Homo sapiens: one gene and its partners. The protein of the gene in region 3 interacts with the protein of the main gene of each other region in a pairwise test. Each region holds a gene or a part of one and is shown on either strand. Other genes may lie near its edges.

The links.
Region 1: the proteins of PIBF1 (region 3) and ZFHX3 interact in a two-hybrid assay, tested with the Homo sapiens proteins (one large-scale study listed by BioGRID).
Region 2: the proteins of PIBF1 (region 3) and SYT17 interact in a two-hybrid assay, tested with the Homo sapiens proteins (one large-scale study listed by BioGRID).
Region 4: the proteins of PIBF1 (region 3) and PRPF18 interact in a two-hybrid assay, tested with the Homo sapiens proteins (one large-scale study listed by BioGRID).
Region 5: the proteins of PIBF1 (region 3) and C7orf57 interact in a two-hybrid assay, tested with the Homo sapiens proteins (one large-scale study listed by BioGRID).
Region 6: the proteins of PIBF1 (region 3) and SPATA18 interact in a two-hybrid assay, tested with the Homo sapiens proteins (one large-scale study listed by BioGRID).
Region 7: the proteins of PIBF1 (region 3) and ZNF35 interact in a two-hybrid assay, tested with the Homo sapiens proteins (one large-scale study listed by BioGRID).

Annotation. Positions count from the first base shown.
Region 1 is NC_000016.10:72,957,094-72,961,317, forward strand, and holds part of ZFHX3 (zinc finger homeobox protein 3), read right to left. Parts: exon of another isoform or gene 3,102-4,224; 5' UTR 3,053-3,101; coding exon 334-3,052; intron 310-333; exon of another isoform or gene 154-309; coding exon of another isoform or gene 87-153; intron 1-86.
Region 2 is NC_000016.10:19,261,889-19,265,908, reverse strand, and holds part of SYT17 (synaptotagmin-17), read right to left. Parts: intron 1-4,020. UniProt on the Homo sapiens protein: Plays a role in dendrite formation by melanocytes.
Region 3 is NC_000013.11:72,784,570-72,788,793, reverse strand, and holds part of PIBF1 (progesterone-induced-blocking factor 1), read right to left. Parts: intron 1-4,224.
Region 4 is NC_000010.11:13,593,040-13,597,263, reverse strand, and holds part of PRPF18 (pre-mRNA-splicing factor 18), read right to left. Parts: intron 1-4,224.
Region 5 is NC_000007.14:48,051,957-48,056,180, reverse strand, and holds part of C7orf57 (uncharacterized protein C7orf57), read right to left. Parts: intron 3,482-4,224; coding exon 3,258-3,481; intron 1,587-3,257; coding exon 1,575-1,586; intron 1-1,574.
Region 6 is NC_000004.12:52,089,037-52,093,260, reverse strand, and holds part of SPATA18 (mitochondria-eating protein), read right to left. Parts: intron 1-4,224. UniProt on the Homo sapiens protein: Key regulator of mitochondrial quality that mediates the repairing or degradation of unhealthy mitochondria in response to mitochondrial damage.
Region 7 is NC_000003.12:44,651,532-44,655,755, reverse strand, and holds part of ZNF35 (zinc finger protein 35), read right to left. Parts: intron 3,200-4,224; coding exon 3,055-3,199; intron 1-3,054. UniProt on the Homo sapiens protein: May be involved in transcriptional regulation. Involved in cell differentiation and/or proliferation.

The DNA of each region.
Region 1 (4,224 bases), on a different chromosome or scaffold from region 3:
TTTTAGGTGATTATAGTGATTTTTCAAATTGAAAGAAGAGACAGAGAAAGAGAGAATGGGAACAGAAAACTAGAGGAAACACTCACATTTTAATCCTGGCCCCACGTAGCCAGAGTACAAGCATATCTCTTTTGAATGCATAAACTCTTCCATATGTACACACACAGTTCAAGGGATTCTTGAGAATACTTGATTGTAAGACACTCCAGTTTACACAAAAACCACTCGAGAAGACCAGAGTCAACTGAATCCACAGGACTATCTCACCCTATTCACCATTCTCCCTGGTTAAACTCCTATCATGAAAACAGACAAACACGTAGTCATCCTCACCTAGAGCAGGCGTCATGGCGGCCATGGGCCCGGCGGGATCCAGCTGGAATCCGCTCATCATGAACTGGGCGTCCGAGGCAGCACTGTCCATCTTCAGGTTGGGCAGGTTCATGTTCTGGGCCAGGTAGTATTGGTAGAGCTCGGCCTCGGCGGGTGAGGGCAGGCTGCCGAGGCCCAGGTGGCGGTTGTGTTGGATCTGGGTCATGTTCTGTTGCAGTAACATCATGTTATGCATGTGCTTCTCACTGGTCATGTGAATGCGGAGGTTCCTGGCCACGTTGGTCTCATAATCACACACCTCGCACCGCCAGGTGGGTTTGGTTTTTGGTTTGGTCGGCGAGGGGGCCCCGCAGGAGCTACTGATATTGGCTGCCGCCGCCGCCGCAGCCACCGCCGCCGCCGCCGCCCCGGCAGTGTGGCTGAAGACCTGCTCCCCCCCTCCATTCTGCAGGTTCTGCATGTTGTTGAGATGCTTGTCAGACTGCATATGAATACTGAGGTTGCCTTTGGTAGTTGTGGAGTAGTTACACACCTCGCAGCGGAAAGGCTTGTAACCACACGTGTAGCTCTCGCCTCGTGCCAGCCGGGGGTGGGGCTGCCCGCTTTTGCAGTAGACACAGGAGCCCCCCGGCTCCGGGTGCTTCTCCTTCATGTGTGCCTCCAGGGTCTGCTGGTACTTATAGTGCCAGTTGCACTTGGGGCACTTGAGTGTCTTACACGAGTTACGAGAATGCATCATGGTCATGTGGCCGCCCAGCGAGCGGGAGGAGCCCAGGACCGTGTCGCATTTGGGGCACTCCACGCCACTCCCCGAGGGGCACTCCCCAACCCCAAGCTCGCAGAGGGAGCCAGCGTGCTGGTGATGGGGAACGAAGCCCCCATCGTCACCCTCTGTGCTTTCATTTGGTTCTGGTGCTGTGGCATTGTCTTTATTGGCACTTTCGTCAGCGAAGTCCAGCCTCCTGCCGCCCTCTGCCACATTGGCCCTGACGCCCTCACTGTTAAAGCTTAAACGATTCCTCCTGTTCGCACCATCAAAGACAACAAAGGAAGAAGCAGAATTAGAACTAGTAGAAGCTGTGCCCCTCGACAGGGTCTGGAGCACGTTAGGCATTAAGGGGGAGTTAGAAATGCTTTGGTTTGAGAGAGCAAGGTCCTTTTTGCTGCTACTACCTGCTGCGGCCCCAGGCTCCTCATGGGGCCTGTCCTCCAGTTCCTCATCCAACTCGCTTGGAAAGAGTCCTTTGCAACCCTCGTCTTCCTCCTCCTCTTCTTCCTCCTCCTCTTCTTCCTCCTCCTCCTCCGCCTCTTCCTCCTCCTCTTCCTCCTCCGCCTCCTCTTCGGCTGGCTCTACCTTCTCAGAGAAGCAATCCCCGTCGCCCACTTCCTGCTTCTCTCCTTCTGCCGCCCCAGAGTCCTTGCCCTCTGAGGATTTGGTAGGACTGGAAGCCAGAGGCCCCAGGGGGACTGAGGTAATGGGGGTCTTCAGTACCGAGCTGGTGAGCCCGCCAAGGTTCAACAGGGTGCTGGGGGTCAAGAGACCAGCCTGGGGCTGCTCGGGGCCAGCGGCGGAGCCCGCTGGGAGAGCTTCCTCCCCTTCCATTCGAATGCCACTAAATTTACCATAAAAACTGTGTCCGGGGCCTATGAGGTTAGCTGTGGAAACTAAAGGGTGTTGAAAGTTTTTGTTTTTTGGTTCCAGAAAACTTACAAGGGGTTCCTTGTCTTTGCCGATCCCTTGGATGATAGCGGAGATGTTCTTATTGCTAAGAATTTTCCGCTCGTCTTCGCTCAGGGTCATTCGATGGTCATGCACCGCGTGGGTCACAAACGAACGGACGTACCCAAAGGAGAGTTTGCACAAGAAACACATCAGGATGGGCTTCCTCTTGCCATAGAGCACAAAGCCATCGAATTTGGACAGGTCCACATTGTTGGGAACATCTTTGGATACGCAGGAGCTTTTGGCAGAACCGTCGCTGTTCAGGTAATCCTTGTTGCTTTTGTGTCGCACGTCAAACACGCGGAAGCTGTGCAGGACGGGGCTGAGCCCCGCCAGGGCTGAGGTATTCGGGAAAGCCTGGTCTGGGCCCTCAAACCATTTCCCGAAGGATGAGGCTATGTGGAAAGTGTTGATGATCTGCGGGTACACGGGTGCAGCACACGAAGGGTCCCCTTGCTTGCCCCCCGCGCCAGGGAGAGAGTTCAGGAAAAGCGAGGGGAGAGGCCCACTGCCACTGCCACTCCCACAGGCGCCCCCGCCCTGGGTCAGCTGGCTCAGGCTCTCCACAATGTACGCGGAGCCGTCCGGCTGGTAGACGATCTCCCCGGCCAGGTTCTCCACGTCACTCTCCTCGTCCCCCTCCTCACCGGTGTCGCTGGCGCTCTCCTCTCTCAGGGGTGGCGGGGGGCGCGCGCTGGGGCAGTGGTGCTCCATGTAGGTCTGGAGGCTGGCAAAGGAGGCCGAACATTCGTTGCAGGTGACCTCCTTGCTGGCGGGCTCGGAGGGGGGCCCGGCCGACGCGGTGCTCTCCGCGAGGCGCTCATTGAAGGGGGCCCTCAGGCTGTCCAAGGGCCCGTGGCTCTCGCCTGTGGACTGCTCCATGCTACTGGGTTTGTCAGGGAGGTGGGTGCTGTTGAGTTCAGTCCATTGCTGGTGCTGAGGGATACCGCACCCATTGTCCTTCCCCGAGACGACGGGCGAGTCACAGCCTTCCATGGTAAGGCCTGCGTGGAGCTTTCATTGCACCCAGTACGGAGGCTCGGACCTGAAGGGCAGAGGCAAGGGGGGAGGAGGGAGAGAGGGGAAAGAGAGAGAGAAAGGAAAGAGGTTAGGAGGGCCGAGGCTGAGGTCCTACCGCACGGAGCGCTCTAAGAGGCTTCTGTCCACAACACAGAGACACAGGGCGGAGGGCGGGCCTGGGGACACTGCCCCACACGGTCCAGCACACAGGGGTGGCATGGCCGGGTCAACAGCCTGAGCGAGGGATATGGGGAAAGAAGGCCAGGAACAGCCCTCTTCGGCTTCGAATTGTCACCGCTCTGCCCCTGAAGACTAGCGGGAATTTCCATTCTTTGCCAGCATAGCTTCGATGGGCCACAGTGGAGAACGGACGCGTCATCTCTCCAGCCCTCTACGAGGTCACAGCCACAGCCCTACCACTTATGGACAGCTCACACGAAGTCAGCCCCGACTCCGCGCACTGTCTGTGGGTCAGGGGAACACAGGGGAGGGCTGAGAAGAGGGAGGTTCAATGTCCCTGGAAAAAGGACGGTAAAGTGGGATAACGCTCATGGATTTAGAACAATTGCAGCCGTCGCTTTTACTGACCATGGTTCTAGTTTGAGAAGTTCAAAGAAGGCGGGTGAGGACCCTGAGGTTCACAGGGCAGGTGTACAGGACTAGACACACTCCGAAAAGTCCTCTCCAGATCTGGGAGGCGTCAGTCCCATTTTACAAGCAGTAAAACAGAGGGGCTTCAATCTAAAAACTGGCTCAGTGCTAATCTCACCACCATGAAACAGAAGAAAAGATGGGTCCCCAGATTCCTGTCTCCTCCACCCATACCAGTCAAGCTCCCTGGCCTGTGACTCTAGCTGACTTCAGACTAAAACTACGTAGGTGCAAAACGTGAGCTTGGTATTTCCAGCAGGAATGGACCAGACTCTGGATCTGCCAACACCCCCTCCAGCAGCTTCTATCTGGCCCTGGCTGGAGGGAGTGCGTTCCCCACGTGCCTGGTGGTTTTTGCTATCAAGGATCTGAGCAGCAAGCCGAGACGGCAGCTGGGCTCGGCGAGCCCCAGCTCCACACCTGCCTCTTAGTTATTAGTCGCTACCCAACCAGCTGTCGTTCAGCCCTGGGGCTTTTCCATTTCCGACTCCAAAGTG
Region 2 (4,020 bases), on a different chromosome or scaffold from region 3:
AGTAATGGCTACGGCAACTTCTTCCACCCCTTGTTGTGCTGCATGTCTCTTTGAAAGGCTTCTCTGTTAATCCCAACTTCAGCTTAATTTGTGTCTTTCAAGCCTAATGAGACGGTTAACTTGATTTATCTTCCCGGCCAAGTTCCGCCTAATTCTTGATCTGTGTGTGGGTAGTCCAGGCATGCCATCTCACTAATGGGAAAGCAGGCTATGCCTGTGTTATAAATGAAGGGCTACAGAATGGGAAATATCACAGATTCACCCAGCGTGAGCCGAGCAAAGGCAGGCTAGATCCCAGGAGGGATGCTGAATATCATATAAAGCAACTAAAATATGCTGCCAAAAACAGAGCTTGAATGCTAATGAGCCTCTGTTCTCCCCTGTGGGTTTCACACCACGAATTCCAAATGATGAAAATGAGGGAGAAAAAAGAAAAATGGAAAAATAAAAACAAAAACTCCATCCATCGTCCAAAAGCCAAAAAGACTTAGGGAAAACTAGGCTACGTGAAATACTATGTCATCTTCAGCAAGAGGGATGGGTACCTGTCAGCTCTGTGGAGAAAAATTGGACCATGTATATTTTTTGTACATTTGGTAACATGCTCAGTATGCATAGGTGGACCTCATTTACATGCAAATTACTTACAAAGAGAAATAATAGGAATGGAAGCTTTGCTTAATAAATGAAATTGCTAAGGAGCTCTCTGCATTTGAAAAAATAATTGAACAGGTAACACTCAAGGCTTTTAGGAATGACACTTAGTGGGCAGTGTAAGGTTTGATCTCACCAAATGAGGACAAGTTACCAGAGTCCCCTTCCCTGTGAGCCTCAAATCTAAAATAAGATACTATTATGAGACCACTTCAGGCCCCATTTAGTTTTCTTCTTTGGGGGCAAAATGTTCTATCTTCTTCTTCCTCTCCAAAGCTCAAGAATGACAATGCAGAAACTTCCCTTCTAAATGGGTATGGGTTCTACTTCTTTGTGAAAGGGCTTTAAGAAAGGAAATTCTGACTGGGCACGGTGGCTCGCATCTGTAATCCCAGCACTTTGGGAGGCTGAGGCAGGTGGATCGCTTGAGCCCAGGAGTCTGAGACTAGTCTGGGCAACATGGAAAAACCCTGCCTTTACTAAAAAATACAAAAAATCAGCCAGACATAGTGGTGTGTGCCTGTAGTCCCAGCTACTCAGGAGGCTGAGGTGGGAGGATCACCTGAGTCCAGGGAAGTCAAGGCTGCAGTGATGGTGCCACTGCACTGGCTCTAGCCTGGGTAGCAAAGTGACCTTGCTTGTCTCAAAAAAAAAAAAAGGTGGGGGAAATCTCAGTCTCACGTACTCTCATGTGCCGCTGGTGGAAAAGCAAGTTGGTTCAAATTTTGGGGTGGTTCACAGCATCTGTTCAAAATAAATATGTCATAACTCATGACTCAGCAATTTCACTTCTAGGAATTGATCCCATAGAATTTTCTGCACAAATGGACAAAAATACACATACAAGGATATTTTATATAGCAGGAATGGGCAAACTAGAGCCTCCCAGTCAAATATGGACTACTACCTGTTTTTGTAAATAAAGTTTTATTGGAACACAGTCAAACCCATTTGTTTACATAATGCTGCTTTTGTGCAAAAAGGGCAGAGTTGATGTCTTAGTCCATTCAGGCCGCTGTAACAAAATGCCATAAACTGGGTGGCTTATAAACAACAAAAACTTATTGCTCACAGTTCTGGAGGCTGGGAAGTTCAAGATCAAGCCACTGGCAAATTCGGTGTCTGGTGAGAAGCTGCTTCCTCATAGGTGGTATCTTCTCACTGAGTCCCCACATGGTGGAAGGGACAGGCTAGTTCTCTGGGGCATCTTCTATAAGGGCACTAATCCCAATTATGAGGGCTCCAACCTTCATGACCTAATCATCTCCCAAAGGTCCCGCCTCCTAATGCCATCACTTTGTGGGTTAGGAATTCAACATACAAATTTGGCAGGGTGGGGGACAACTATTCAGACCACAGCAGCTGAATAATTTGGAGGCCATGTGGCTCTCAAAGCCTCACATATCTGCTATCTGTCTGGTTCATCCATGTTGTAGTGCTACTTTTTATGGCCAGCTAACGTTCCATTGTATGGATATGCCATGTTTTGCTTATCTGTTCATCAGATGATGGACATTTGGGTTGTTTCCACATTTTGACTATTATTATGGATAATGCTACTGTAAACATTTATGTCCAAGTTTTTTTTTTCTTTTCTTTTTTTTTTTTTTTTTTGAGTTGTAATTTCACTGTTGTCACCCAGGCTGGGATGCAGTGGCGTGATCTCGGCTCACTGCAACCTCTGCCTCCCGGGCTCAAGTGATTCTCCTGCCTCAGACTCCCAAGTAGCTGGGTACAGGTGCCCACCACCATGCCTGGCTAATTTTTGTATTTTTAGTAGAGACAGGGTTTTGCCACATTGGGCAGGCTGGTCTTGAACTCCTGACCTCAGGTGATCTGCCCACCTCGGCCTTCCAAAATGCTGGGATTACAGGCATAAGTCACCATGGCTGGCCTATGTACCAAGTTTTTAAGGTCATATATTATGATCCATTTATATGAAATGTCCAGAATAGGCAGATCTTTAGAGACAGAAATTACCATTAGTGGTTATCAAGGATAGAGGAAAGAGGGAATGGGGTGTGATAGCTAATTGGCACAGGGCTCCTTTTTGGGGTGATAAAAATGTTCTGGAATTAGATAGTGGTGTTGGTTGCACAATCTTGAAAATATACTAAAAAGCACTGAATCGTATACACCAAAAGGGTGAGTTTTAAGTTATGTGAATTTTATCTCAATTAAACAAATTGCCAAAAGGGAATACAAAAAAAAAAAAAAGATTATCTGACTCCTTATAGAAAAGTTTGCTGACCCCTGCACCAGGGCATTGTTTATAAGAATGAAAAACGGGAAATGGCAAGACTGTCCCTGAGGGAGTGTAGCTGGGGCTGTTGGTGCCCTGCCTACCCCTCAGCCCACCTTGGAGGCTACTCATGGTTTCTATAGATAGTGTCCTTCCTCAAGCACCTGCAGCTTCCTGCCTGAGCCATGCCAGCTTGTCTGTGCTAACTGTGATTTATGGTGAGGACCTTGGGCCACTCAACATTAGCTGGACCTCTGCAAGCTACCTCTGCAAGGAGGCTCAGCTACCCAGATGGTCAGCCATGACTATATGACCAACGTCCTCTAACTATGCTGGACACCAAGGCTCAGGTGAGTCTTCTTGGGTGGCAATACCCTAAGTGTGTTGTCACACATCCTTGCAAGGAGAATTAGGCACTGCTCGTATAACTCCAGTTGAGGAGAACAACTGGAAGCTTGCATCTGGTCTCTCTTGGACTTTTTCCTATGACAAAGAGGACTCTTTCCCCTTTCTTAGTCTGCTGGGCTGCTATAACAAATTACCATAAACAGGGAGGCTTATAAACAACAGGAATTTATTTCCTAATGGTTCCAGAAGCTAGGAAGTCCCAGATCAAGGTACCAGCAGATTCAGTGTCTGGTGAGGGCTTGCTCTCCTTCATAGGTGGTGCCTTCTCATGCAATAGAAGCAGCAAGACAGTTCTCTTGGGTTTCTGTTATAAGGGCACCAACCCCATTCATGAGGACAGAGCCTTCATGGTCTAATCACCTCCCACATGGGGATTAGGATTCAACATAAGAATTTTGGGGGAACAAAACATTCAGACCATAGCAGCAATCTTTCACTTTGCTGATTTTGGTCTGTATGCTTTTTCTGTAATAAACTGTAACCATGAGAATAACAGTTTTTCCAAGTTCTGTGGTGAATCATTGGACCTGAGGGTGATTTTGAAGACCCCCTATACTGCAGATATCCACTCGCCAAACATCCTTGATTTGTTTTCCTCCTTTTCCTGTCTTATTTGCCATTCCCTTATTCAAGCTTCCTGAGGTCACCTCCTAGTAGCCTACTTGAGCTCATGTCACTAAGTTTGTCTTTGGGAGGTACCTAGAATAAGACTGGAG
Region 3 (4,224 bases):
CCCAACATCAAACCTTCCCTTCTTTCTGACATACTCTGGTTTTTATTAGTAACAACATGTCCAGTTAGCTTCCCATCCCTTGTAGGTAGGGGTGGTCATGCTATACAATGTTAGTCAATTGAGGCCACTGGCTTGAACTTCTGGAAGAACTCTTTAAAGAGGACTGACTCATTTGGCACATGCCCCCTTTTCCACTATCCTTCTCCTTATTACCACCTTTTACATGTACACAATACTGGAGGCAGATAAGCTATCTTATGATTTCAGGTGAAAAGCATATGTTGAAAATAGCTAAGGTTAAAAGGAGCCTGGGTTCCTAATGCGATCAAGGAGTAATCACTTGAGGTCTACTAAAATACCTATTTTTGGATTTTTGTTATACCAAAGAAACAAAATCCTTCTCTTGCTTAAGCCATGGTTTCCAGGTCTCTGTTACCAGAAACCACCATTTTTCAAGTCTCTGGTATTAACTGCTGAACTTAATCCTTGAAACCCTGGGCAGTTGGTTCAATCTCTTTCCAAAATAGAAATACCTATAATATTTATTAACAGTTGACTATTCAGGACTACTTAAATGCTTCCAATGACAGGAAGCTCAGAAACTTAAGATCAGGCCATTTCAATGTTAATAGCAATAACAGGCTTACACTGAGCAGAAATCTACCTTTCCTGTGACTTCCAACCATTATCATGGAGCTATAGTCTAGTGAGGAAAATTTATTTTTCATAACGTTAGCATACGATGCTCAATAAGCTTTGGAGAATGAATGACCAATTAAAAATACCTTTCTTTCAAGACCTAGGCTTTAAGTTTCCTGCCCAGGCTAAAAAGTGTATGGCATGGCTGGGTGCAGTGGCTTCACACCTGCACTTTGGGAGGCTGAAATGGGTGGATTGCTTGAGGCCAGGAGTTCGAGACCAGCCTGGCCAACATAGTGAAACCCCCATCTCTACCAAAAATACAAAACTTAGCTGGGCGTTGTGGCACGGGCCTACAGTCCCAGCTACTCGGGAGGCTGAGGCACAAGAATCGCTTGAACACAGGAAGTGAAGGTTGTAGTGAGCTGAGATCATGCCACTGCACTCCAGCCTGGGCAACAGAGTGAGACTCTGTCTCAAAAAAATTAAAAGAAAAAAAAAGTATATGGCAGCACTACCAAATTGAGCCCCTTTCTTCTTCACTTAAAAATTCAGAGAGGATGCTACCAGATAGATTTGAATCAAATACCGCGTGGTGTTACCAGATCCATCAGGCTTTTGGGGACCCTGTTCATTTCAAAATACCCCATGAACCTTCTTTGCTTTCTTCTAGAGCTGGACCTCATTGAAACACCAAGAAAACAAACAGCTCTAACACCAGGAGTCCAATATACTTCTGAGTCCTCACAATCGACCAGAGGGACAAAATTCAGTGGGGTGTACTAGCTTTAGAATCACTGCTCACAAGAAACAGTGTAGCACTTTGTTCATCTGGAGTGCTTCACACATAAAGACAAAAATAAAGACATAACTAAACATATAATAACACATACAAATAAAGGTGTTATTTTAAAACATATAAAGAAATATGTCACATACCAATTTATACATAAACAAATAAGTGAAAAAATATATATCATGTGTGTAGTGCTGTTTGCCTGTCTAAGGTGTTATTCCCAGGGCATGTAAGAAGTAAACATATATATACACACATACACACATTAACATACATATACATATTCTTTAATAAAAATATTTTTTAAATATTCTTTCATCAACTCCAGACTCACACTTTCTCACATTTTAACATCTCTAAAATTGGAATGCATTTTACAATCTAAGGCACTTAACAATTCAACTGGAAGTGTTTAACCTTAGCAATGTATGTAATGATGCATCTTACAACAGAGGTGCTTTAGGTTCAATAAATTATGGAAGGCTAACTCTACAATAGGTATTTCTTCATATATTTGAGAGCAAACATCTTATTCCTAAAGAGTCTTCAAGCAGAGAATCCTGAGTGCTCGTATGATAGAGAAAAAAACTCTACTAATATACAGCAGGGCAGCTATTTTGGAGATAACCTGGCAGTACACTTAGTTAAATGAAGGAGACATTTATATATGTCAAAGACATGCTCACAGAGGTCCAGAAGAGAAATGTCTAATGCTGCATGTGTTGCAAGGAGCTGGAGGCAATCTGGATGCCTAGCAATGTAGGAGTAGAAAGACTGGTAGACGCACACAAAGAATTACATAAGAGTTGGAAGCAAAGGACTAGATGTATACAAAGTAATAGATAACTTCAAAAACAGTGCTGAGTAGGAAAAAAGAGATGAGAACTAAAACAAAGCATATAATTTACATTTCTGTAAAGTTAAAAGATACACATTCTCAAGAATACATGTAAACAAAACATTAAAATGTTTGCATTAAGAAATGGAATGAGCTATAGGAATGAAAAGAATAAATACATTAGAAAAACAGCAGCCTTTCAGGGATCAATGATGATTATGTGTCAAACTCAGGAACACGACTATTGCAATCTTCTACATTTTCAGTCAAACTAGAAAACCACAACAAAAACTACACTAAGCACCATGGAAGTAGAAAAATAATAATATTGTGCTGAGTAAGTATAGCTACAAATAAAATAATATGTAAATAATAAGTTTATTATTAGTATACACCAAGCATCTATGAGCTTACATACATTGATTAATCCTCCCGATAATTCCACGGAATAAATACTATTATCATTTTATAGGAAATCACGGAATAAAAACATTAAGGAATTTAGTAAGGCTGGAATTCAAAACCCAAACTGTGTGCATCTAGAACTGTAATTTGGATTTGTTACACTAGAGAGCCTGTCATGAATCAACCAACATTTCTATAATATAAAGCTTACACCTAAAAAGAAGCAAAGCCATTGACAACCAAGGACAATGCAAGTTGAAAACAAATAATACAAGAGGTGGCTGAACAAAATGTAAGTCTGGATATGGTATACAGGTGGCACTTAAAAAAATACTTGTTGACTGAGTGGGTGAATTAATGAATGGGAGATAACCTCAGGTTTCTTCAATGAGTTGCACTAAGGTCTGGAGAGGTGAAGGTAGATGGAGTTCATGTGAAATGCAAAAAGAGTAAGGGAATAGGGATGGGAAACCACTGGATGCATGGATAAACTACCAAGTGACCTAGACTAGGTAGGTGACTGTATAGGGTACCTAAAAGAAAGTGTTTGGAGCTTCACTTGTGTAGAGTATAGGCTTTAGACTTCCTAGGTTTGAATCCTATCTGGCTCTATCACTTTCATCTGAATGGCCTTGGGTATGCTATTAACCACCTAGTGGCTTTGTTTAATCAGAGCAAAATGGGGTTCAGTCATTCATTTAAGAAATAGCTGGGCACTTAATTTGTGTCAGGCACCGTTCTAAGTGCTGGAAATACAACCATGAATACAAAAACATCCCCGTCCTCATGGACCTCATAGTCTATTCACAGACAAATAACAAACAAATTCAGTCCGATGGCCATAAAAGGCACAGAAAATGAAAGGGATGAAACAGATAAGGATGCTATGTTAGTTGAAAACAACAACGGCTAATACGTCTTGTGTGCTTATTTTTTTTTCTCCCCTCAAAATTTGTATATTGAAACCTAATCACCAATGTGAGTAGCAGGAAGTTGGGGCCTTTGGGGTGATTAGGTTATAAGGGTAGAACCCTCACTGTTGGGATTGGTGCCCTTATAAAAGTGATCCCAGAGAGCTAGCTGGGCATGGTGGGGAGCACTTGTAATCCCAGCTACGTGGGAGACTGAGGCAGGAGAATTGCTTGAACCCAAGAGGTGGAGGTTGCAGTGAGCCAAGATTGTGCCACTGAACTCCAGCCTGGGTGACAGAGCAAGACTGTCTCCAACAACAACAACAAAAAACAACAAAATACCTCATATGTTAGATTTTTTAAATTGAGCCTACAAAAGTAATTTATCCATATCTACGTTTAAATCACTCCATATTTCAATACTTAAATTATTATTATTATTTTTTTGAGATAGGGTCTCACTCTGTTACCCAGGCTGGAGTGCAGTGGTACGATCTCAGCTCACTGCAATGTCTGCCCCCGGATTCAAGTGATTCTCCCGCCTCAGCCTCGGAAGTAGCTGGGCCTGCAGGCGCAGCACCACTACGCGGGGCTATTTTATTTTTTTAGTAGCAAGGGTGGTCTCACCATGTTGC
Region 4 (4,224 bases), on a different chromosome or scaffold from region 3:
GGGCACCGATATGTGGTAAGTTCAAGTATTTTTCTTGCAGTATCAATCAGTAGGCAAGTCCATCAGCAAAGAGGAGACCAAGAATATTTTCCAAATGTTTTCACTTCTTAATGTCTGAGTTCAATGATAATTTCTTCAAATGGATTCATTATGAAACACATAAAATGGTATACCTCAATTATTTTTTCCTAACAGAAACAAAATTATGACATATATAGCCTACATTTGATATCCCACATAACAAGGGAACTCCAGGAGTGTAAGTTCTTTCTTGTTACCTGGAACCTTATTATATCAATCAGTTCTTAAAATAATCTACATATAGGGTGGTCTTGGTGAACTCTTTTATTTAAAAAATGATTTAAGGATATTTGGGGTTTTTTGTGCGTTTTTCTGGTTTTCTGTTTGTTTTGGAGACAGGGTATCTCTCTGTCACGCGGGCTGGAGTGGAGTGGCACAATCAAGGCCACAACTTCGACTCCCTGGGTTCAAATGATCCTCTCACAAGGTATTTGTTGTGATATGATTTGATGTAAAGAGACAAGCTCTAAATCTTGTCTGTGGCTAAAAAGATGTCAGTCCTTTCCACATTATACATAAAATTATCCTTATTGTTACATCTACAGTCCGTAATTTGGAGGCTTGTTGCCATCGCAGCTCTGCCTCTTGGATATTATTCCAAAGATGGCTTTGTTCAAATAAAGACACTGTCCCCGACTGTATTAACAGTAATGATATAATATTACCTGTGTACTACCTCCACACAAGTATTTAGCACCTCATAGTTCCAAAGCTCATTCACTCAGACAATGATCATCAATGGATGCTAAAACCTTATGAAAAAGGCCAATGGTGACAATGGAAAGATGAGCCTGCCACCATTTGAACCCAATGATCAAGCTTGACATCAGTAAAAGATTATGTACCACCTATGTTATACTACAGGAATTACCCAGCCATCGTCTACGAAGTATCCTTGTTAAATGTAGGGAAGAGAGGAATTAACTAAGTGTCAATATGCCAGGAAGCAATTACACAAATCAAAGACATTTTACAAAACTAGCCCCAGTTTCTCCAGCAAGTCAATGGCATGGAAAAAATCAGCCAAGTTGAGAAAATGACAACGTTCTTCATTAAAAGAAACCAAGATTCATAATAAGCAAATGCAAGGATTGAACTTCGTGTTGACCTGACTTGAAAAACCAACTGTAAAAGCAAATGTATGTACATATTTTAATTCAGTTGGAAAATATACGAATGTGAGAAGAGTATCTGATAAAATTAACAAACTAATTTTAATTTTGTTGGGTGTGATCATATTTTGGTTTTAAAGGAACATGTCATTTTCTAGAGCTGCATGTTTCAGGGGAAGGATATACAGGGGCTCATCATAAAATTTTATCTATTTTTGTATTATGTTTAAAACTTTCAGAATAAGGTTTTTCTAAAAGTTCATTCCTTAATTCAATAAACATTTCCAGACTTATCTACCACACAACAAGCACAGTTTTACGGAAATAAAGATGAAGATGTTATCTGGGGTAAGGAACCGATGGTATCATCTGAACATCAAAACTACCCTGAGTACGGTGGGGGCAAATAGTATTAACCCCTTTTTAGAGATGAGAACGCTGAGAATTAGGTTAGGTGACATTCCCAGAACTCAGGAAGAATGATGAGTAGCAACTAGAACTCTGGTCCTTAAACCCTTTGTTCTGATCTAGTCTTCCAAGCTACAGTTCTTCACTCCCAAAATATTATTTCGGCATCTAAAATTGTTTTTGACTAGGTAGTATATAATTGTCATATTTCAAATAAGTTGGCAAACACACATTGGTATCCTCTCAGAAAGGGCTGTGTAGAAAGAAAGGAAAAAACACTCTCCAGGCCGGAGGCCATGGTCCAATCTTTTTAACTATGTTATCTTTGATGACCATGTCTCAATTCCATTGAACACACCTAACAAAATCTCAAGCCTAGAACATCTCAAAATGTGGTCCACAGAGGCTCTTTCAGAGGTTTTGCAAGGTCAAATTTATTTTCATGATATACTAAGACATTATGTGCCCCGTTTTCATTGTGCTCAGATTTGCACTGACAGTCCAAAAGCAACATGGGGGGAGGATTTGGGAAGGGGGACTACTGGCATCAGCAAAAATAAAGGCAAGGCCTTCAAACTGTATTCTTCACCAACATGCACTTACAAAAAAATAAAAAGTCTAGTTTCTCTTAAGAATGTCCTTGACGAAGTATAATTAGCATAATTTTCCTAAATCTCAACCTTTGAGTACACAGCCTTTTAATAATCAGCATGAAAAAATAAAATGTATAAAGCACTTTTGTTACATACTAAAGTAGAATGGTTTCCTCAAAGAAAAGCACTTGTGCAATTGTTTGATTAGTCAGATTTGGGTGTTTGGTAGACATTTTCTCAGAACTGAACAAAACAAGCTTAAAGCTAAAAGAAAACAATGATAGTATTTACCACCGATGATAAAATTCCAGCTGTCAAGTGAGAACTGGAAAAGTGGAAAACTTGTACCCACCACCAGGAGCTTAATAGCTTCCCAATACTTGAAGCCTTTTCCAATGAAATCAGTGGTGATATTAATGAGATTTTTTAATATTATCTAATCAAAAATGTCAACATTAAGAAGATCTGCATAATTCACTGAACCATGACATTACAAAATCAAGATGTTACAAAATCACATCTAGGTAAAAAGATCCATTCAAAGAGCAAAATAGAACAGGCTTTAATGTATGAAAAGTTCATTGAAATGATTTCAGAATCCACATTGCAACTGATCTTTAAGAAACCAATTGTCTAGTTTTGGTGTAGTATCAAGAAGAATATCCACAATTATCTGAAAAGGCTATTAAGATACTCCTTTTTCTAACTACTTATCTGTGGATGAATTTTCTTCGTGTACTTGAAAACAACATACAGCAACAGACTGGAGAGAGAAATAGAATCCAACTACTATGCCAGAGGTTTCTAAAACAATGTCACTTTTCTCACTGAAGTGTTTGTTTTCGCAAATATAGTCTTTTCATAAAAATATCTGTTAGCATACTATGGGTTTATTATTGCATTTCTACATGGAATATACATTTTGTAATTTCCTGGCTTTAATTTCTAATACGGTAATTATCAATAAATGTGTCCTATGTAAATAAAAGCTCTCTGGGTCTATCAATAATTGAGAATGAGACCTGAGACCAGTAAGTTTAAGTCCACTTGGCGTTCTCCATGCCTATAGCATGCGCAAAACAATGCTGGCAAAAACCACTGGGGCCTCAACATTGCCTATTGGTCCTGGGGTATTTACCCATTTCATTTTCTTTCCTATTGTCTACACTGACCATTCCACTGTCTCCATTCTCACGAATTTCCCATCCTTTCATTCTCCCCTCATTTTCAGCAGATGACTAAACCATCTCATTTTATGGAAGCAACCAGTCAGGAACTCCTCCAAATTCCTCCCAACTCCAGTCATGAGCTGGATCTTCATTGGTCCTTTCATTTCACAGTGAAACAGAGAACCCTCCTCTGTCTGTCTAGGGCAAATCCCTTGCCAATTACTCCAGACCTCAATTCCTCAGGGACTTCTCACCATCAATGCTGTTTTCTCCTTCGCATATTCATCCTTCCCCTCTCTACTGGCTCTTGACAATTATAATTTAAGTATGCTCAAGACTCTGCCCTGGGTATCATTTACAGCAGAACCACATTAAACTGTTTAATCTAATCCGTGTCCACTTCCTTACCCCCAATTCTCTTTGCAGCCCCACAGCATGTGGACATCCATTCTGTTTCACTGAAAAAACCTCCTTGGGGTCATAAATAATGTCTAAGATACAAATCCAAAGAGACTTCTCTGACTGATCTCATCCAGTCTTCGATTTAACTGCTCATTCCTTCCTTCCTTCAGTAACTTTCTCCTCTTAGCTGACAGATTCTTCTTATGTCTTCCTCACTTACTGGTTTGCTTAGATTTTCTATTTCTTGTATTTTTTTGTACTTTTTAGCCATTTACTTCACTTAGATTTTCCAATGTATTAGAACTAGTATACAGTTTTCCTTACTAATTTTATTTTCCAATGTCTCCCATGTTGGTTCCTGCCATTCCTTCCATTGGTCCTTCATTTCAGAATGTTTTGTATAATGTGGGGTAGGGGTTGTTGCTTATTATTTCCGTATGGATATCCAGTTGTTCAGCA
Region 5 (4,224 bases), on a different chromosome or scaffold from region 3:
TGAGATATCATCTCACACCTGTCAAAATGGCTATTATCAAAAAGATGAAAAGCAAGTGTTGATGATAATGTGGAGAAAAGGGATCCCTTACATACTGAAGGTGAAATGTAAATTAGAATAGCCATAATGGAAAACATTATGGAGTTTCCTTAAAAAACTAAAAATCGAATTCTCGTATGATATAGCAATCCCACTGCTGGGCATATATCAAAGGAAATGGAATCAGTATGTCACAAAGCTACATCTGCGCTCCCAAATTTTCTGCAGCATTATTCACAATAGCCAAGCTATGGAATCAACCTCACTGGCCATGAACAGATGAATAAGGAAAAAAAATGTGGTATATACATGATGGAACACTATTCAGCCTTTAAAAAAGAAGTAAATTCTGTCATTTGTGACAACATGGATGAACCTGGAGTACATTAGTCTAAGTAAAATAAGCCAGGTACAGAAAGACAGATACTGTATAATTGCAGCCATATATGGAATCTAAAAAAATTGAACTCATAGAAGTAGAATAGAATGTGTTACCAGGTGCTGGGGATGGGGCAGTAGTTGATGGGGTAAGAGGAGAAGTTGGTCAAAGGGTGCCAAGTTTCCCTTAGACAGGAGGAGTTAAGTTTTAATTATCTATTTCACAGCAAGGTGAATAAAGTTAATAATAATATATTGTATATTTCAAAATCATTAAAAGAACAGATTTTAAGTGTGATCACCACAAAAAAAGGGTAAGTATTTGAGGTAATGGATATTTTAGTTACCTTGATTTAATGATGCCACAATGTATACATATATCAAAACATCGCATTGCACCCCATAGTTGTATACAATTATTATCTGTCGATTTAAAATAAAATAAAAAGTAAACTAAAAAATAAATTGGAGTCTCCGATGGCTTTTTACTTATGTTTTCCAGTATGACTCTCACATGACGAGTAATACAATGTGTGTCCATGAACTAAAGTATGTTTTTGCTTGTGTAACATGAATAAAAGAATAATAGGCCAGGCGCGGTAGCTCACGCCTGTAATCTCAGCACTTTCGGAGGCCGAGGCAGGTGGATCACGAGGTCAGGAGATCGAGACCATCCTGGCTAACACGGTGAAACCCCGCCTCTACTAAAAATACAAAAAATTAGCTGGGCGTTGTGGCGGGCGCCTGTAGTCCCAGTTACTCGGGAGGCTGAGGCGGGAGAATGGCGTGAACCCGGGAGGCGGAGCTTGCAGTGAGCGGAGATCGCGCCACTGCACTCCAGCCTGGGCGACAGAGCGAGACTCCATCTCAAAAAAAATAATAATAATAATAATAATCATCATCATCATCATCATCATCTTCATCCTGTTGTAATTGTGTAAGCGATCCTCTTTTTGCTCTCCCTAAGTTAAGTTTCTGGAACTCTGATTTTTTTAAAGCATACATGGCACAAGCTTTGTAGTCAGAATGCATGCAGTTTGGAGAAGGACATTCCAGGCTGCCTAGAGGCTGTAGTCTCAGAATGCAGGACTATGTCCATCAATTTCTTTGTGTAAGACTTTTTGTGTTTTGGTGCTGGTTACTTTATAAGTACTCACTTTGAGAAGACTCTGTAATAAAAAGTACATTCGTTGTTCAGGTTAATGAAACAGATCAAGTATTAAAAGAAGTCATAATTACTTAAAGATTTAATGAAAATTCTGTATTACTTAAAACAACAATAAGTCATAAAACACTCTTGACATTGTAAAGTTCAATAGGGCAACAAACCTTTTTTTTTTTTTTTTTTTTTGAGAGAGTTTCCCTCTTGTTGCCCAGGCTGGAGTGCAGTGGCACGATCTCGGCTCACCGCAACCTCCGCCTCCTGGGTTCAAGTGATTCTCCTGCCTCAGCCTCCCGAGTAGCTGGGATTACAGGCATGTGCCACCACTCCCAGATAATTTTGTATTTTTAGTAGAGACGGGGTTTCTCCATGTTGGTCAGGCTGGTCTCGAACTCCTGACCTCAGGTAATCTGCCTGCCTCGGCCTCCCGAAGTGCTGGGATTACAGGCGTGAGCCACCATGCTCAGCCAATAGGGTGCTTTTTAACAACACTGAGTATGAACTTGTCACCATCTCATCTTCCAGGATAATAAAGGAGAGAGTTGGCCAATAAGTGGCAGATCTTGTTCAACAAATACAGTAAGGAACAGGGTGTAGAATGGCAAACGGTGACCTCACTTACAAATAACCACACCACACCAAACACTTCAAATGTCTGAAGAGGTATAACACGCCATCTTTCCTCTTAATCAAAGAGCTCAAGCCTCAAGAGTAAAAACAGGTTTCCCAGAAGCAAATGGTCAATAATTAATAGAGCTATGGATACTGAACACAATGTCAATAGGCTTTAAGATGGATGTGTTGAAAAAATAAGATGAATTCTTTCTGTACTATTAAAAATAAAAATGAATGGCTGTGCACAGTGACTCACACCTGTAATCTCAGTACTTTGCAAGGCAGAGGCAAAAGAATTGTTTGAGCCCAGGAGTTTGAGACCAGCCGGGGCAATATAGTGAGGCCTTGTCTTTATGAAAAATAAAAAAATAGCTGGGTGTAATGGTGCATGTCTATAGTCCCAGCTACTTGGGAGACTTAGATGGGAGGATCGCTTGAGCCCAGGAGGTTGAGGCTACAGTGATCTGTGATTGTGCCACTTCACTCCAGCCAGGACAACAGAGTAAGACTCTGTCTCAAAAAATAAATAAATAAAATAAAATATTATAATAAATAAAAACTAATATAGTACTTTGAACATCTAATTGTGGAGAAAGTTCTAAATTATTCAAAGCTTAAGACATGCCAATAATGGAGTAATTTTAAGTTTGAATTTTGACTTATTTTCAAAGCTTTTTAAGAAGTGATCTCAAAAAGTACCGGCTGCTTATGCAAAAGTCCTTTTAGGGTCAACATTGTTTGGATCTGGAAGATTAAAAGTTGATACTATTTGGTATATTATTTGTTTGTTATATCAAATGGACTATCAAAATTTTTGACAAATAAAAGAAAATGTGAAACCCCAAAAGTCATGACTTCCGCTATTCATTTGAATAAAGAGGAAAGAGCAAAACATGTATTACTCTCTTGCTTATCTGTAACCTTAGTACTTCTGTGGGCGTTTTCACATGGTTTTTGGGTTACTCATTTCTCATTACGAGACGCATCATGTGATAAGAACGTCAGCTGCTGCATCACAATTAACCAAGCCTCCAATAAATGCAGATGGCTGCTTGTGCCTCACCTGGGGTGTCCTCAGGACCTTCAGAAGCCTCTGCATCCTGGAGCCTGGCTGCATCCTGGGGACCTTCCAGGTCTCGTGGGGACTGAGATAACACTGATGCCCTGGAGGTCTTCGGGGTCCTCTTGTCTGAGTCAGCTCGCTGCTGCTGCTGCAACCACTCATCCTTATAACCATTGCTAATGAGTTTGGAAAAATTGGTAGGTGAACTGTTTTTTTGACCAGGCCTTAAAAAGAGTAAAAGTAATGTGAAACTTAAGTACAAGGGTTAATGATAAAGCAGAAGCAGTATTCCGTGAACACACCAAATAGGAGGTGTCACTGTCCCTTTAAACCTAACAAACCTCTCTCTCTCTGTCTTTCCCTCTCTCTTTCTCCCTCTATCTCTCTCTGCCCCTTTGTCTCTCCCTCTGCTTCTCTGTCTCACTGTCTCCATTTTTAAGCATAGCAAGTGCATGTCAAAGCATCCCTTGTACAGGGATGAGAGCATGTTTAGTTCAGCTTCCAAAATCTTTCTTTGTGATAGTCAATTAAGAATTAGTAATAATTCTAGTATTTCACAGGGAAGCCTTCCTAAGAAAACACCATGCCCTTCCCTCATAGTAATGGATTGCTCAGAACTACCTTTAAAAACAAAACAAAAAACAACAACAAACTGCTGGGTGCCGTGGCTCACGCCTATAATCCTAGCACTTTGGGAGGCCAAGGCAGGCAGCCATGAGGTCAAGAGATCGAGGCCATCCTGGTCAACCTGGTGAAACCCCGTCTCCACGAAAAATACAAAAATTAGCTGGGCATGGTGGCACGCACCTGTAGTCCCAGCTACTCAGGAGGCTGAGGCAGGAGAATTGCTTGAACTTGGGAGGCGGAGGTTGCAGTGAGCCAAGATCGTGCCACTGCACTCCAGCCTGGGCAACAGAGCGAGACTCTGTCTCAAAAAAAAGAAAAGAAAGAAGAGAGAGAGAAAAAA
Region 6 (4,224 bases), on a different chromosome or scaffold from region 3:
TTCTTTTATTGACTATCATATTGTATCATATTATAGATGTATTGGTTTGTTGACTGTATCACATTCAGCTAATCTGTTTAAATCATAATAATCTTTCTCTTTCCTATATTTTATTTTTCTTTTTAAGTTTAGGGGTACATCTGCAGGTTTGTTATATTGGTAAAACCTTGTCATGGGGGATTTCTGGACAGATTTTCATCACCTGGGTATTAAGCCTAGTACCAATTAGTTATTTTTCCCGATCCTCTCCCTCCTCCCACCATCCACTCTCTGGTGGTCCCCAGTGTCTGCTGTTCCCTCTTTGTGTCCATGTGTTCTCATCATTTAGTTTCAACTTATAAGTGAGAAAGGTATTTGGTTTTCTGTTCCTGTGTTAGTTTGCTAAAGATAATGACCTTCAGCTCCATCCATGTTCCTGCAAAGGACATGGTCTCGTGATCTTCCTATATTAAGACCTATTCAGAGAAGATAACATGTTTTTGTCATTTTTGTGTCCCTCCCAAATCAAGCATCCATCAGATCCAGAAAGAATGTATGATAAGGAGCATGCAGGAGTCACAATAGATGCTCATTAAAGTCCGTAAGGGGGAGTAGATTCAAGATGGCTGAATAGAAACAGCACTGGTCTGCAGCCCCCAGCAAGATCAACGCAGAAGGCAAGTGAGTTCTGCATTTCCAACTGAGGAACCCAGTTCATCTCATTGGAACTGGTTGGACAGAGGGTGTAGCCCATGGAGGGCAAGCCAATGTATGGTGGGGCATCACCTCACCTGGGAAGTGCAAAGGGCCAGAGAATGTTCCCCCCTACCCAAGGGAAGCCGTGAGGGTCTGAGCCTGAGGAACTCTGGCACAGATGCTGCGCTTGTCCCATGGTCTTTGCAACCTGCAAACCAGGAGATTCCCTCCAGTGACTACCTCACCAGGGCCCTGGGTTTCAAGCACAAAACTGGGCAGCCAATTGGGCAGACATCAAACTAGCTGCAGGGGCTTTTTTTTTTTTCTCCCATATCCCAGTGGCGCCTGGAACACCAGCAAAACAGAACCGTTCACTTCCCTGGAAAGGGGGCAATGAACCCAGGCAGCCAAGAGGTCTGGCTCAGCGGGTCCCATCCCCACGGAGCCCAGGAAACTAAGATCCACTGGCTTGAAATTCTCACTGCCAGCACAGCAGAAATCTGAGATCTATCTGGGATGGTCAAGCTTGGTCGGGGAGGGGTGTCCACCATTGCTGAGGCTTGAGTAGGCGGTTTTACAGCCACAGTGTAAACAAAGCTGCTAGGAAGTTCAAATTGGGTGGAGCACACTGCAGCTCAGCAAGGCTGCTGTGGCCAGACTGGCAGATTGCTCCTCTTTGGACAGGGCATCTCTGTAAAAAAGGCAGCAGCCCCAGTCAGGGGCTTATAGCAGACTTAAACGTCCCAGCCTGATGGCTCTGAAGAGAGCAGCAAACCTCCCAGCCCAGCATTCGAGCTCTGCTAAGGGTCAGTCTACCTTCTCAAGTGGATCCCTGACTCCTGTGTATACTGACTGGGAGACACCTCCCAACTGGGGCCAACAGACACCTCATACAGGAGCGCTCTGGCTGGCATCTGGCAGGTGCCCCTCTGGGTTAAAGCTTCCAGAGGAAAGAACAGGCAGCAATCTTTGCTGCTCTGCAGCCTCCACTGGTGATACCCAGGCAAACAGGGTTGGGAGTGGACTTTCAGTAAACTCCAGCAGGCTGACAGCAGAGGGGCCTGACTGTTAAAAGGAAAAGAAACAAACAGAAAGGATTAGCATGTCCACTCAAAGACCCCATCCAAAGGTCACCAACATCAAAGACCAAAGGTAGATAATTCCACAAAGATGGGGAAAAACCAGCACAAAAAGGCTGAAAATTCCAAAAACCAGAACACCTTTCCTCCTCCAAAGGATCACAACTCATAGCCAGCAAGGGAACAAAACTGGATGGAGAATGAGTTTGATGAACTGACAGAAGTAGGCTTCAGAACGATGGTAATAACAAACAACTCCAAGCTAAAGGAGTATGTTCTAACCCACTGCAAGGAAGCTAAGAACCTTGAAAAAAGGTTAGTCGAATTGCTAACTAGAATAACCAATGTAGAGAAGAACATAAATGACCTGATGGGGCTGAACACAGCACAAGAACTTCGTGAGGAATACACAAGTATCAATAGCCAAATCAATCAAGCAGAAGAAAGGATATCAGTGATTGAAGATTAACTTAATGAAATAAAGAGAGAAGACAAGATTAGAGAAAAAAGAATAAAAAGGAACAAACAAAGCCTCCAAGAAATATGGGATTATGTTAAAAGACCAAATCTACATTTGACTGAAAATGTACTTGAAAGTGATGGGGAGAATGGAACCAAGCTGGAAAACACTCTTCAGGTTATTATCCAGGAGATATTCCCCAACCAAGCAAGACAGGCCAAGATCCAAATTCAGGAAATACAGAGAACTCCACAAAGATGCTCTTCAAGAAGAGCAACCCCAAGACACATAATCGTCAGATTCACCAAGGTTGAAATGAAAGAAAAAATGCCAAGGGCAGCCAAAGAGAAAGGTTGGGTTAACCACAAAGGGAAGCTCATCATACTAACAGTGAGTGAATCTGTCTGCAGAAAACCTACAAGCCAGAAGAGAGTGAGGGCCAATATTCAACGTTCATTAAAGAAAAGAATTTTTAACCCAGAATTTCATATCCAGCCAAACTAAGCTTCATAAGCAAAGGAGAAATAAAATCCTTTACAGACAAGCAAATGCTGAGGGATTTTGCCATCACCAGACCTGCCTTACAAGAGCTCCTGAAAGACGCACTAAACATGAAAAGGAAAAACCGGTACCAGCCACTGCAAAAACAAACCAAAATGTAAAGGCCATTGACACTATGAAGGAACTGCATTAACTAATGGGCAAAACAATCAGCTAGCATCATAATGACAGGATCAAGTACACACATAACAATATTAACCTTAAATGTAAACGGACTAAATGCCCCAATTAAAAGACACAGACTGGCAAACTGGATAAAGAGTCAAGACCCATCAGTGTGCTATATTCAGGAAACTGATCTCACGTGCAAAGACACACATAGGCTCAAAATAAAGGGATGGGAGAATATTTACCAAGCAAATGGAAAGCAAAAAAAAGCAGGGGTTGCAATCCTAATCTCTGATAAAACAGACTTTAAACCAACAAAGATCAAAAGAGGCAAAGAAGGGCATTACATAATGGTAAAGGGAACAATGCAGCAAGAACTAACCATCCTAAATATATATGCACCCAATACAGAAGCACCCAGATTCATAAAGCAAATTCTTAGAGACCTACAAAGAGACTTATACTCCCACACAATAATAGTGAGAGACTTTAACACCCCACTGTCAATATTAGACAGATCAATGAGACAGAAAATGAACAAGGATATTCAGGACTTGAACTCAGGTCTAGACCAAGTGGACCTAATAGACCTCTACAAAACTCTCCACCCCAAATCAACAGAATATACATTCTTCTCGGCACCAGATAGCACTTATTCTAAAATTGACCACATAATTGGAAGTAAAACACTCTTCAGCAAATGCAAAAGTATGGAAATAATAACAAACAGTCTCTCAGATCACAGAGCAATCAAATTAGAACTCAGGTTTAAGAAACTCACTCAAAAGCACACAAATACATAGAAACTGAACAACCTGCTCCTGAATGACTACTGGGTAAATAACGAAATGAAGGCAGAAATAAAGATGTTCTTTGAAACCAATGAGAACGAAGACAACTTACCAGAATCTGTGGGACACATTTAAAGCAGTGTTTAGAGATAAATTTATAGCATTAAATACCCATAAGACAAAGCAGGAAAGATCTAAAATTGACACCCTAACATCAAAATTAAAAGAACTAGAGAAGCAACAGCAAACAAATTCAAAAGCTAGCAGAAGGCATGAAATAACTAAGATCAGAGTAGAACTGAAGGAGATAGAGACATTAACAACACTTCAAAAAATCAATGAATCCAGGAGCTGGTTTTTTTAAAAAAGATCTGCAAAATAGATATACTGCTAGCCAGACTAATAAGGAAGAAAAGAGAGAAGAATCAAATAGACACAATAAAAAATGATAAGAGGGGTATCATCACTGATCCCACAGAAATACAAACTACCATCAGAGAATACTATAAACACCTCTTCACAAATAAACTAGAAAATCTAGAAGAAATGG
Region 7 (4,224 bases), on a different chromosome or scaffold from region 3:
GGTTTTCATGCAAGTGATTCATCACTGAGTAAAGTAAGACCTGGGGTCTTGGCAAGTGCCTAAGAAAAGAGAATTAGGGTCCATCTGGTATAGTCAAGTTCAAATTTCTTTGGGTAAAAAGATTAATCAGCAAATAATCCGGGCGTATAACCTTGGCTTATTTGAAATGGTATTTTTCCTTTTTTTAAAAAACATGTAGGATTACTGTAGCTCTAGAGAAATTAAATTAAGTACAGAAATAATGAAAAACTAAAACAAAAACTAATTTGTGACCAACTAGAACACAGGCATAGCCATAGTTTTTAAATCAATACTCTTCTTTCACTCTTTTTTTTTTTTTAAAGATAGCTGAAATGCTACATAAGCCTGCCACCTTAGCTGGTGACTGTATTCTGAGATAAGAAGGGTAATTTGATTTACTAAATTTATAAGTCCAATTCATTAGATTTATAACAGCTGTGTTTATCAAGATTTTATTTACAAGATTTGTAAGTCTGCCCAGTTAGGTGTTTGGAATGTTTTAAAGAACTAAAGATATCAAATTTGTAATTATGTTTTATATAAAGAAATTTGATAAGCAGGTAGAATTAAATGTTTAAAATTTTTAATTAATTTATTTTTTTAGACAGAGTCTTGCTCTATTGCCCAGGCTGGAGTGCAGTGGTGCAATCTTGGCTCACTGCAACCTCTGTCTCCCGGGTTCAAGCGATTCTCCTGCTTCAGCTTCCCAAGTAGCTGGGACTATAGGCACGCACCACCATGCCTGGCTAATTTTTGAATTTTTAGTAGAGACAGGGTTTCACCATGTTGGCCAGGCTGGTCTCGAACTCCTGATATCAGGTGATTCACCCGCCTCCGCCTCCCAAAGTGCTAGGATTACAGGCTTGAGCCACTGCGCCCGGCCAAAATGTTTAAAAAATTTAATCTGTAAAATTTGAAGCTTAACTGAACATAAGTTAAAGAAAAAATACAAATGTTCTCACTTTTATACAAATATTTCTAGATGTATGGATGAAGTAAAAAGTTATGCTTAATGGCTTAAAAATTGGTTTTTAAATGAATAAACTTTAATAAATTCAACATTAATTAAAATATGAAAACTACAGTTAAAACTTGCTCAGACATTAAAAACCCAGTAACACATCACAATTTCCAAAGCACTTTCATGTATATTATACAATTTCATCATGAAGATGAAACTGTTCTCCTTCAGCTAAAAAAAGAGCAAGGTTGTGTCTTATTCATTTCTGTATCTCCAGCACCTATCACGCTGCCTGACACATAGGAAGGAGGCCGCCAACAAATCCTGTACTTAATGAACACACCCAATTTGTAGAACAGGAAATGGAGGTCCAGAGAGAGAAGGGACTTACTCAAGGTCACAGAGTTATTACAGGCAGGGCAGCAACCCCACTCAGATATCTCTCACACATAGAGCTCAGTGTTCCCACCATCGCCTGCTGACATCGCCATGGAAATAGTGTTGGCAGTGTTCCTGCCATCGCCATGGAAATAGCTGGCAGCACAAAATACTAAGTCTTGGGTATGAACATGGTCTTGAGGTAAGAGGCAAAGTAGGAAAAGGGAGCCCATTCCTGATGAGGTGCAGCTGTTGGGGTTAAGACTATGAATGGCTGATAAAGCTCAGAGACAGAAAATAAGTGACATGCACGCGAATGCACCAGAGAGAATGGAACACAAAGCAGAAAGTGGGGAACAGAAGCTGCTAAGAGTTTGGGAATAATTAAATATGAGACAAGAAAATCTAGGTGGAGATCCTTGTCTTCCCCATAGCACTGGTTTAAGAAAGTGACTTGGTCCCCAGATGCCTGAGGAACTGGTTAGGGAGGAGAGTGGGTTCAAAATATTCAATATCTGGCAGACTCATAAAAAGAATAGGGCTTGGCAATCAGCCAGTAAGTGCTTTGAAACACAGGACTCATGGCTACTGCATTCTTGACCCTCACTTATATGTCACTCCTCCACAGGCAAGCTTCTGCCACTGCCAGTGAGATCTTTAGAACATACTACCCTTTCTCTAGTCCTAGCTTAGAGAGAACAAGTTGATAAGCCATCAGTACCCTTCACGAAGACCTAGTTTTGAACATCATTATGGTTAACACAGCTGCTCAAAATCCTCTATAATTTGCACAAAGATCTATGAAAACAGAACATCTCCAGGGCATTTGCTCAAAATCACCACAAAAGTTGACTGTTCCTACCTCGGCTAGCATCTCTTGCAGGCTCACCAACCTATGCTAACTACAAAGCGTATAAAAAGGACATGTGCCTACATGTGTGCACAGAGATGAAACTCATTGAACAATAAATATCACTAAAAAGTGAGTTTGGAATTCACCTATTGTATGGTAAATACACCTGATGGCAACAACTTAAGCATACCCTGAGAATGATCCTGTATGGCAGACACACCTGAATATAGTTTGGAGTTCCAAGCAAAGGAATCCAGAAGTGGCCAACCTGGAGATCCATTCCTTATCCATTCCCCACCCCTTTCAGTGGAATGCGGGCCTTAAAGGGGATTGAGGCCCCTTGTTTTGGGTTAAATTAAGGCTGCCAGGTGGAGGTCATTAGGGAGAGGGTGTTAAGTGAAAATGCGACATAAACCGCATGCCTTTTGCAAGCAGTTGCAGCTCTCCTGTCCAGCCTGTGCCACTGGGCCATGTGGTTCTCCCGTGCCCAGTCCACTGCCTCTAGACTGTCTACCCTGTACATAAACACCTAGTAAAATTCTATGTTGTTTGCTGGCTCTGGGTCTCTTCTTCAGCCTCTTGAACCTGGTACCATATTGGTGTTGATCAGGTTTCAGCACAACACCTATGTTTGTCTAGTGTCTTGAGCCTGTGTGCAAAATAAGCCACTTCCCATGACAAATGCACAGGCATTTCAGCATTCCTCTTTCCAGCTTTCCTGGACACTTTCAATACCTCAGTACTCTGTTGGTCAACCTAGGAGACTGGATGCCCACCAGTCTCTGAAAAGATTTTGAGAAACCCCAATGGTCAGATTCAGAATCAGGGAACTGAACCATACCTAGAAAGTTCATGGTCCCATGAGTCTCCAGTATCTCACTCTTGGCCAGAGTCCCTGGTAATGAGTAGCTGCCAAGGGTTGAAGCAGCAGGTGCCTCCTGAGTTGCTTTCAGGACTACCGCCATATCCCAGGATATGTTCTGACCCTAGAGACAAGCAGGCACATGTTTAAGAGGGAACTGGTGGTAGGGGGTAGTGTGGTTACAATTTTGAGAATGAGAACATAATTATCTATTCCTGGAGGCCATAGAACAATTTTTAAAAACAGAAAAGGAAGCCAGAGTCTCCTCCAACCCCCAGGGTGAGTTGGGCAGAGAAACAAGCTAGCTACTTTCTTCCTTATTACTTTGATTGCACCTCACTGCTCACTCCAGAATCTAAACCTAGCTTACCAGTGAGTACATGATAAGAGGAGAGAGCATATGGGAAGAATTTTCAGAGTGAACTTTTGTGGGATCTAAAGATCAAAGCAGCAAGGTTTTGATGATATTATTACAGAAAGGCTCTGGGGGAACCTCTGCCCTCATTTGACTAGTAATGGTAAGGGGTGTGTTTGAAACATTAAGGACAGCACAGTGTACAGCCTCATGAATCAAAGTGTGGTGCAAAGATCAGCAGCAGTATCTGCATCACCTGGAAGCTTGCAAAACAAACAAACAAAGAACACAGAATCTCAGACCACCCCCAGACATCCTCAATCAGAATCTGAACTTTAACTGTTTTAACAAGAACCCCTAGGTGATTCCTATGCACATTAAAGTTTTAGAAGCTCTGGTTAGCATTGTCAAAACCTGACTGAAATTACCTGAAGAGTTTTAAAAAAACATGGATACCCAGGTCCCACCCTTAGATTCTTTTTTTTTTTTTTTTGAGGCAGGGTCTCACTCTATTGCCCAGGCTAGAGTGCAGTGGCATGAATTCGGCTCACTGCAACCTATGCCTCCAAGGCTCAATCAATCCTCCCACCTCAGCCTCCCAAGTAGCTGAGACTACAGGCACGTGCCACCATGCCAAGCTAATTTTTTGTATTTCGGCATTGCAAAACACGAGGTGTGCAATGTTGCTCAGGCTGGTCTTGAACTCCTGACCTCAAGTGATCCTCCCGCCTTGGCCTCCAAAGTGCTGGGATTACAGGTGTGAGCCACTGTGCCTGGACCACGGATTCTGATTT